3 separate regions of the Homo sapiens genome follow, and all the other regions are linked to region 1. Evidence: fine-mapped expression QTL. A gene starts in region 1. Each other region holds a variant in brackets. All regions are shown on one strand. Distances are from middle to middle.

What was found.
Region 2: its variant is fine-mapped to the expression of CYP2S1 in subcutaneous fat (TwinsUK, PIP 0.95).
Region 3: its variant is fine-mapped to the expression of CYP2S1 in coronary artery (GTEx, PIP above 0.99).

The regions. Positions count from the first base shown.
Region 1 is chr19:41,192,019-41,194,777 of GRCh38, forward strand. CYP2S1 (cytochrome P450 family 2 subfamily S member 1) reads left to right here and starts at 1,201. Exons shown (of 9, transcript NM_030622.8): 1 at 1,201-1,423; 2 at 2,526-2,691. The coding sequence starts at 1,247. LOC124904790 reads right to left here and starts at 1,034. Exons shown (of 3, transcript XM_047439802.1): 1 at 962-1,034. The coding sequence starts at 1,034. RefSeq lists enhancers at 727-1,227, 2,538-2,759 and a silencer at 1,140-1,229.
Region 2 is chr19:40,890,560-40,893,318 of GRCh38, forward strand. It overlaps the pseudogene CYP2G1P. Among named protein-coding and RNA genes, the nearest start is that of CYP2A7, 9.7 kb to the left of the region's middle. The variant T/C (reference allele first, on the strand shown) is at 1,389.
Region 3 is chr19:41,817,346-41,820,104 of GRCh38, forward strand. No RefSeq gene overlaps it. Among named protein-coding and RNA genes, the nearest start is that of CEACAM3, 22 kb to the left of the region's middle. The variant C/T (reference allele first, on the strand shown) is at 1,495.

The DNA of each region.
Region 1 (2,759 bases):
TGAAAACCCCTCCAGACAGCTTCCGTTTGCAATAGAAATAAAATGCAGTCTTTTCCAAGACCTTGCAAGATGGCCCCTGCAGACTTCATGAATCTTATCTCCTACATTCAATCTTTGAAAATATAACAAATATTTATTGAGTGCCTACTGTGTGTCAGGCACTGCACTATATGTTGGGGATACAGCAGTGAACCAAACCTACAATAATTCATGCACAAATGGTTCTAACATTCTTCCTTCTCAAGAAGCCCATTCCCCTGGCAGGCCTTCTCACTTCCTGAAATTGTTTTCATCTCATCTTCATCTGCATGTGGATATGAGCTCAGGAAGGCCAGAGCCCTTCTCTCCATCGCTCATAGCTGCACCCTCGGGTCTAGAACAAGGTCTTGTTTATAGTAAGACCTCAATAACAGTTAGTTGCAGAAATATTAGCTAACATCTATTTAGTGCTTGTTACATGTGCACCTGCGTCTGCTTTAAATGGTGTGCACAGATGTACTATTTAATCCTGAAAACTAGCCCCATTTTACAAGGCTAACAGAGGCACAGAGGAATTAGGCTGTGAATTCAAGCAGTCTGGCTTCAGCCATCACGGTCCTAACCGCTCTGCAAACTGCCTCTAAACGAATGAATGAATGACTCAATCATTCTAACTGGCCCAAGTCAAAATATTAACTCTGCCACTCAGCCAAGTTGACCTGGGGCCAACCGATTTATCTCCCTGGACTTCAGATTGTTTATCCTTAAAGGTCAAGTCCTTCCTCTCAGTTCGTGAAGATGTAAGATGCTGGAGAAAATTGACTCAAAGACACCCCATACACGCACGCACACAGGAACCCACATCCGAACAATGAGCGAGGTAGGAGCTGGGGAGAGTGGCGCGGGGTCACCGCCAGATGCGGGGTGTGGCAACCTCCAGGCGGCCAAAGTCTCTGACTTCCAGGTTCTTCTGTTTGCTTACTCCCTATCCGGGGGCCCAAGGCGCTGTCTCCGCCGCCCAAGCCCCGCGTAAACCTGGGTGACCTCGGAGACATCCGTTGGAGCATGAGTTCCCGACATCAGGCGGCGGCGGTGGTCCGGGAGAAACCCGGCGGCGGGGAGATAAGCCTGCCCAGGAGGCAGGGGGCTGGGCTAGCTGCCCCGCCCCGCGCCTGACTTCGTTGGGGAGGGAGACGCCCGGCTCCCGCCCCTAACTAGCCCAGCCGCGCGGAGCGCCTGGGAGAGGAGAAGGAGCCGACCTGCCGAGATGGAGGCGACCGGCACCTGGGCGCTGCTGCTGGCGCTGGCGCTGCTCCTGCTGCTGACGCTGGCGCTGTCCGGGACCAGGGCCCGAGGCCACCTGCCCCCCGGGCCCACGCCGCTACCACTGCTGGGAAACCTCCTGCAGCTACGGCCCGGGGCGCTGTATTCAGGGCTCATGCGGGTAAGGGGCTCTGGGGACGTCCTGGCTAGGGGTGGGAGGATTCCTGGGAGAGAAACCCGAGTGCCAGGGTGAGGGGCTTTTCGGGTATCCTAGGGAGGAGGCAGGGGCAGGGGTCCCAAGGCAAAGGGGCTGCTGCTGTCCTGGGGTTGGGGGCAGGAGCAGGTTGTCCAGGGCTGAGAAGGGGAGAGGTGCCCGGGAGAGAGGATCGTGGGGTGGGGGACCAGGGCTAGGAGGGGCAGAGACCTCTGCCTACAGAATCCTGGGAAGGTGATGGGCAGGGACCGAGGCTGAAAGAGACAGGAGTCCTCCAGCCGAGGAGAAGCTGATGCAGCTGGGCTTGTCCCAGAGGGAGAGGTAGCTGGAGCCATACAGGTGGGGCATGCTGAAGAGGGCACAAAGAAGAAAAGGGGGAGGCGTCCCTGCGGGGAGTTGGAGGCAGAGAAGAGGCTGGAGGGTTGCAGGCTCAGAGAGGGGGTCCCGCTGAAGGAATCTGCCAGCAGAGAATGCAGGATGGGAGGATGGGTGGAGCTCAGTTGGGAGTTCCTGGGACTGGGGAGGAAGGAGAGCAAGAAAGAAGGCAGAGGCAGCCCCAGCCTTAGGGGATAGCAGGTGGGAGTGGGCAGAGGCCTGAAGTTTCCCATTCAAAAGGATTCTGGGTGACTTCAAGGACGTAGAAAAAAGGGTGGGGTCTTGGGGGAGAGATGGGGCGGATACTCAGCAGTGTCTGCTCCAGAATTTCAGGGTTTTGTGGTGACTGAAAGGGGTGGCTGGATATTTGGGGGGCAGGGAGGGCCCTAAGGAATTAAGGGAGACCCAAACTGCTTCTGGATTGCCCAGCGTCAGAGGTTAGGGTTCAGCAGGAAGCAAGGGAACGACAGGAAGTTGGGGGATGCCACTGAAGGATGTACTGGGGGAGGAGGCCCGGGAGCCTAGTGCAAAAAGAGAACTGAGCCTCAGCTATTTCTGCTGGGATGGGGGCAGGTTCCTGGTAGAGGGCGTAGAAGCTAGACCCGGTGGCTCCTCAAGTGACAGGGGCCATGATGGAGACACCTTGGATCGAAGAGGTCACAGCACCCTCCTCTTTCTTCCTCCCTACCCCCAGCTGAGTAAGAAGTACGGACCGGTGTTCACCATCTACCTGGGACCCTGGCGGCCTGTGGTGGTCCTGGTTGGGCAGGAGGCTGTGCGGGAGGCCCTGGGAGGTCAGGCTGAGGAGTTCAGCGGCCGGGGAACCGTAGCGATGCTGGAAGGGACTTTTGATGGCCATGGTAAGTCAAGGGCTGCTAGGCCCTCCGCTCACAGCCTGCCACCACTTACTGGTGTGTGACCTTTGCAC
Region 2 (2,759 bases), 300 kb before region 1:
AACATGGTGAAACCACATCTCTACAAAAATACAAAAATTAGCTGGACATGGTGGTGTGCGCCTGTAGTTCTAGCTACTTGGGAGGCTGAGGCATGAGAATCGCTTGAACCCTGGAGGCAGAAGTTGAAATGAGATTATACCACTACACTCCAGCCTGGGTGACAGAGTGAGAATCTGTCTCAAAAAATAAAACAATAAAAAAAAATAAAACAACATGGTTTCCCTGTTTGATAGATGGGGAAACAAGTCCCAGAGGTTAAGTGACTTTCCCAGTGAAGAAAAGACAGAGCTGCCACTTGTACCCAGATTGTCTGGATCCTAAAATCAATAGCCTAAAAAGATAATAATTTGCCTCTTACACCCCACCAAGAAATTCTGTTCAATTCTGTTGAGCTGAGAGGGAAGAACAGGGAGACTGGAAATATGAAGAAAGGGGAATGGCCCCAGAGGATTTCCCTGTGTGAATTCAATTTACCTTTATTCAGGTGGGAGATTATAGGTTATATAACCACCCCCAATATAAAGCAATCTCTTCCCCGATGACACTCAAACCCGGAAAACTTGAATCCCAGGGTGTTCAGATTTTGGTATAAGCTGATCTCCCAGGACCTACTTAGGCAGGATCTGGTGCCCAGGACAGAACCTGTTGACCTGGCACCATGGAGCTGGGAGGGGCTGTCACCATCTTTCTGGCACTCCGCTTGTCTTGCCTGCTCATCCTCATTGCCTGGAAACGAATGGATAAGGCAGGAAAGCTGCCCCCAGGTCCTACACCAATTCTTTTCCTGGGGCACCTGCTGCAAGTTCGAACTGATGCTACGTTTCAGTCTTTCATGAAGGTGAGTCTGTCTGTCTCCTTTAATAGGGCTAAAAGCAACTAATCCTATAGCCAGATTCACATAGAAACTTATGACTTCTAAAAGATAGACTCTCAGAAACACAGACTTTGCAAATCTTAGAATTCTGAAATTCCAGAATCCTAAAATGTTGGAAACACACATTCTCAGTGCATTGAAATAAGATTTTCATGATCTCAGGACTTTGGAATCACAGTACATTATATTTTTAAACACAGGATTCTTTGACTCAGCTTGTCTTAGCACTTTGAGACTTGGTATCATGAAGTCTTAAGATTCTAGAAATTTAACATTTCAGAGAGAGAAGTATGAATCTTGGAATTTATCGAATCCAGGTCCCTTATTTTGGAGATGCAGACAGTAACTCTTGTGGGAAGGGATGAGCTTTTGCCGAGAATGACAGAAGCCAAGACTTCCGTGCCTCTTTCCCAGTATTCCTTCCAAGCCCAGATTTACCTTGGTTCCTTAGTACCATGTTTATATCCCTCTAAAATCGCCATCCTCTAAAATCCTCAACTGGCCTATGCTTGG[T/C]ACTCCAGTCAGCCCCTCCTCTTGTGTTTTCCTTCACTCCAAGCTCAGGGAGAAATACAGCCCTGTGTTCACTGTGTACATGGGTCCCGGCCAGTGGTGGTTTTATGTGGACACGAAGCAGTGAAGGAAGCCTTGATAGACCAAGCGGATGAGTTCAGTGGCCGTGGAGAACTGGCTTCAATAAAGCAAAACTTCCAAGGTCATGGTAGGTAGCAACAACAACAAAAACAATAAAACCGGAAATGACTGCAATGCACTCCCTATATGCCAGGTTCTTTGGTAAGTAGTCCACATGACTTACTGTATTGACTCCCTTAGGAGAGCTGTTAACATTATACTAATGTTGTCAATGAAAAAGCTAAGATAGGCCAGGCATGGTGGCTCATGCCTGTAATCCCAGCACTTTGGGAGGTTGAGGCGGGCAGATCACCTGAAGTCAGGAGTTTGATACCAGCCTGGCCAACGTGGTGAAACCCCGTTTCTACTAAAAATTTAAAAAAAAATTAGCTGGGCATAGTGGTGGGCACCTGTAATCCTAGCTGCTCAGGAGGCTGAGGCAGGAGAATCACTTGAACCCTGGAGGCGGAGGTTATAGTGAGCTGAGATTGCACCATTGTACTCCAGCTTGGGCAACAAGAGTGAAACTCTGTCTCAAAAAAAAAAAGAAAAAGCTAAGATAAAGGTTAGATAATGTCACACAGTAAGTGGTAGGATAATTTTATTTTGAGCCTATGCCATCTGACTCCAAACTGTTTTCTGTGTTATTTCTGCTCCTATTTTTAATGGATTAGTGAGATATATATATATATATATATATATATTTTTTTTTTTTTTTTTTTTTGAGACAGTTTCACTCTTGTTACCCAGGCTGGAGTGCAATGGCATGATCTTGGCTCACCACAACCTCTGCCTCCTGGGTTTAAGCCATTCTCCTGCCTCAGCCTCCTGAGCAGCTGGGATTACAGGCATGCGCCACCACGCCCGGCTAATTTTGTATTTTAAGTAGAGATGGGGTTTCTCTATGTTGGTCAAGCTGGTTTCGAACTCCCAACCTCAGGTGATCCACCTGCCTCAGCCTCCCATAGTGCTGGAATTACAGGTGTGAGCCACTGAGCCCGGGGGATTAGTGATATTCTTTATGCACCCATAGCCAACCCTCATACCCCTTATAGCTAACCTTATTTCTCATCTTCCTATACTTATACACATACCTAACCCATAGGTCTCTGCCTCCTTCACTTAGGTAGATCTCTTTCTCTCATGCATCCATCTCTAACTGCCCACATCCTTCAATTCCAAGGAGGCTCACCACATTCTGCCTATCAATCTATCTATCTATCTATCTATCTATCTATCTATCTATCTATCTAT
Region 3 (2,759 bases), 630 kb after region 1:
CACTGCAACCTCCACCTCCTGGATTCAAGCAATTCTCCTGCCTCAGCCTCCCAAGTAGCTGGGATTACAGGTGTGTACCACTACGCGCAGCTAATTTTGTAGTTTTAGTAGAGACGGGGTTTCACCATGTTAGCCAGGCCGGTCTCAAACTCCCAACCTCAGGTTATCCGCCCTCCTCGGCCTCCCAACTTGCATTTTTAATGGCTAATAATGTTGAGCATCTTTTCATGTGTTTATCTGCATATTCTTTTTGCTGAAATATCTATGCGGGTCTTTTCCTTTTTTTTTTTTTTTTTTTTTTTTTTTTTTTGAGGAGTCTTACTCCTGCCCAGGCTGGAATGCAGTGGCATGATCTTGGCTCACTGCAACCTCCACCTCCCGGATTCAAGCCATTCTCCTGCCTCAGCCTCCCTCGTGGCTGGGATTACAGGTGCGTGCCACCACGCCTAGCTAATTTTAGTATTTTTAGTAGAGAAGGGGTTTCACCGTGTTGGCCAGGCTGGTCTCGAACTCCTAACTTCAAGTGATCCATCCACCTCATCCTCCCAAAGTGCTGGGATTACAGGCGTGAGCCACCATGCCCAGCCTCTTTTCACATTTTCTAATTGGATTTTTTTTTTTTTTTTTTCTTGAGACGGAGTCTCACTCTGTCACCCAGGCTGGAGTGCAGTGGTGTGATCTCGGCTCACTGCAAGCTCCGCCTCCTGGGTTCAGGCCATTCTCCTGCCTCAGCCTCCCGAGTAGCTGGGACTACAGGCGCCCACCATCACACCTGGCTAATTTTTTGTATTTTTAGTAGAAACAGGGTTTCACCGTGTTAGCCAGGATGGTCTCGATCTTCCTGTGATCTGCCCGCCTCTGCCTCCCAAAGTGCTTGGGAGGTACCTTGTGATCCACCCACCTCGGCCTCCCAAAGTGCTGGGATTACAGGCATGAGCCTCCACGCCCAGCCTCTAACTGGATTTTTTAATGTTGAGTTTTGAGCATTCTTTATGTATTCTAGACACAACTCCTTGGCTGGATATCTGATTTGCAAATATTTTCTCCCAATCTGTATTTGTCTTCTTTTTCTCTTAACAAGGTCTTTCACAGAGCAGAAGATTTTAACTTTGATTTAAAAATTCATCAGTATTTCTTTTATGGATCGCATTTTGGGTGTCAAGTCTAAGAACTCTCTTCTTTCACTTTGTCGAAAATTAACGCACATACCTGTGCACACCTATTTCTAAGTCCCCTATTCTCTCCCATTGATATATGTGTCTATCCCTCAATCAGTCCCATGTTGTCTTGATTACTATAACTATATAGCAAGCCTTATGAGGAAGAGTGATTTTTCCCATCTTATTATTCCTTTTCCAAATGATTTTGGCTATTTTAGGGCCTTTCCTTTTCCATATAAATTTTAGAGTAAGCTTATCTAGGTCTATGAAAAAAAATTGCTGACATTTAGCTAGGAATTGCATTAATGTAGATCAATTTAGGGACAATGAACAT[C/T]TTTACTGTCTTGAGTCGTCCAATTCATGAACACATGTCTCTCCAAGTATTTAGTTCTCCTTTGATTTCGTTCATCGGCATTTTGTAATTTTTATCATATAGTTCCTGTACATGTTTTGGTAGAGTTATGTCCGAGTATTTCATTTTCTCTGGAGCAATTGTAAGTGGTACTAGGTTTTTATTTTGGTTTCCACTAGTTCATTGTCTGTATACAAAAATGCAATTGAATTTTGCATGTTGATCTTGTATCTTGTGACTTTATTGAACTCACTTATTAGTTCTAAAAGATACGTTTTTGTAAATTCCTGGAGATCTTTTACATAGATAATCAAGTCATCTTCAAATAGAGACAGTTTTATTTATTATTTTCTTCTTCTTTTTTACTTTTCGAGACAGGATCTCACTCTGTAGCCCAGGCTGGAGTGCAGTGGCACAATCTCTGCTCACTGCAGTCTCAACCTCCCAGGCTGAAGCAATCCTCCTACCTCAGCTTCCTGAGTAGCTGAAACTACAGGCACATGCCACAGTGCCTGGCTTTTTTTTGTTTTTATTTTTGTTTTCTTTTTTTTTTTAAGACGGCGTCTCACTCTGTCACCCTGGCTGGAGTGCAATGGCGTGATTTAGGCTCACTACAAGCTCCGCTTCCCGGATTCACGCCATTCTCCTGCCTCAGCTTCCCGAGTAGCTGGGACTACAGGCGTCTGCCACCACATCCGGCTAATTTTTTGTATTTTTAGTAGAGATGGGGTTTCACCGTATCAGCCAGGATGGTCTCGATCTCCTGACCTCATGATCCACCCTCCTCGGCCTCCCAAAGTGCTGGGAGTACAGGCGTGAGCCACCATGCCAGGCCGCCTGGCTTTTTTTTGTAGAGATGGGATCTCATTATGTTGCCCAGGCTGGTTTCAGACTCCTGAGCCCAAGCAATCCACTCACCTCGGCTCTCCAAACATCTGGGACCGCACCCAGGCATGCACCACTGCACCCAGCCTATTTCTTACTTTCTTTCTTTTTTTTTTTTTTTTGAGACACAGTCTTGCTCTTGTCACCCAGGCTAAAGTTCAATGGCACGATCTTGGCTCACTGCAACCTCCACCTCCCAGGTTCAAGCAATTCTCCTGCCTCAGCCTCCCAAGTAGCTGGGATTACAGGCGCCCACCACCATGCCTGGCTAATTTTTGTATTTTTAGTAGAGACAGGGTTTCGCCTTGTTGGCCAGGCTGGTCTTGAACTCCTGACCTCAGGTGATCTGCCCGCTTCAGCCT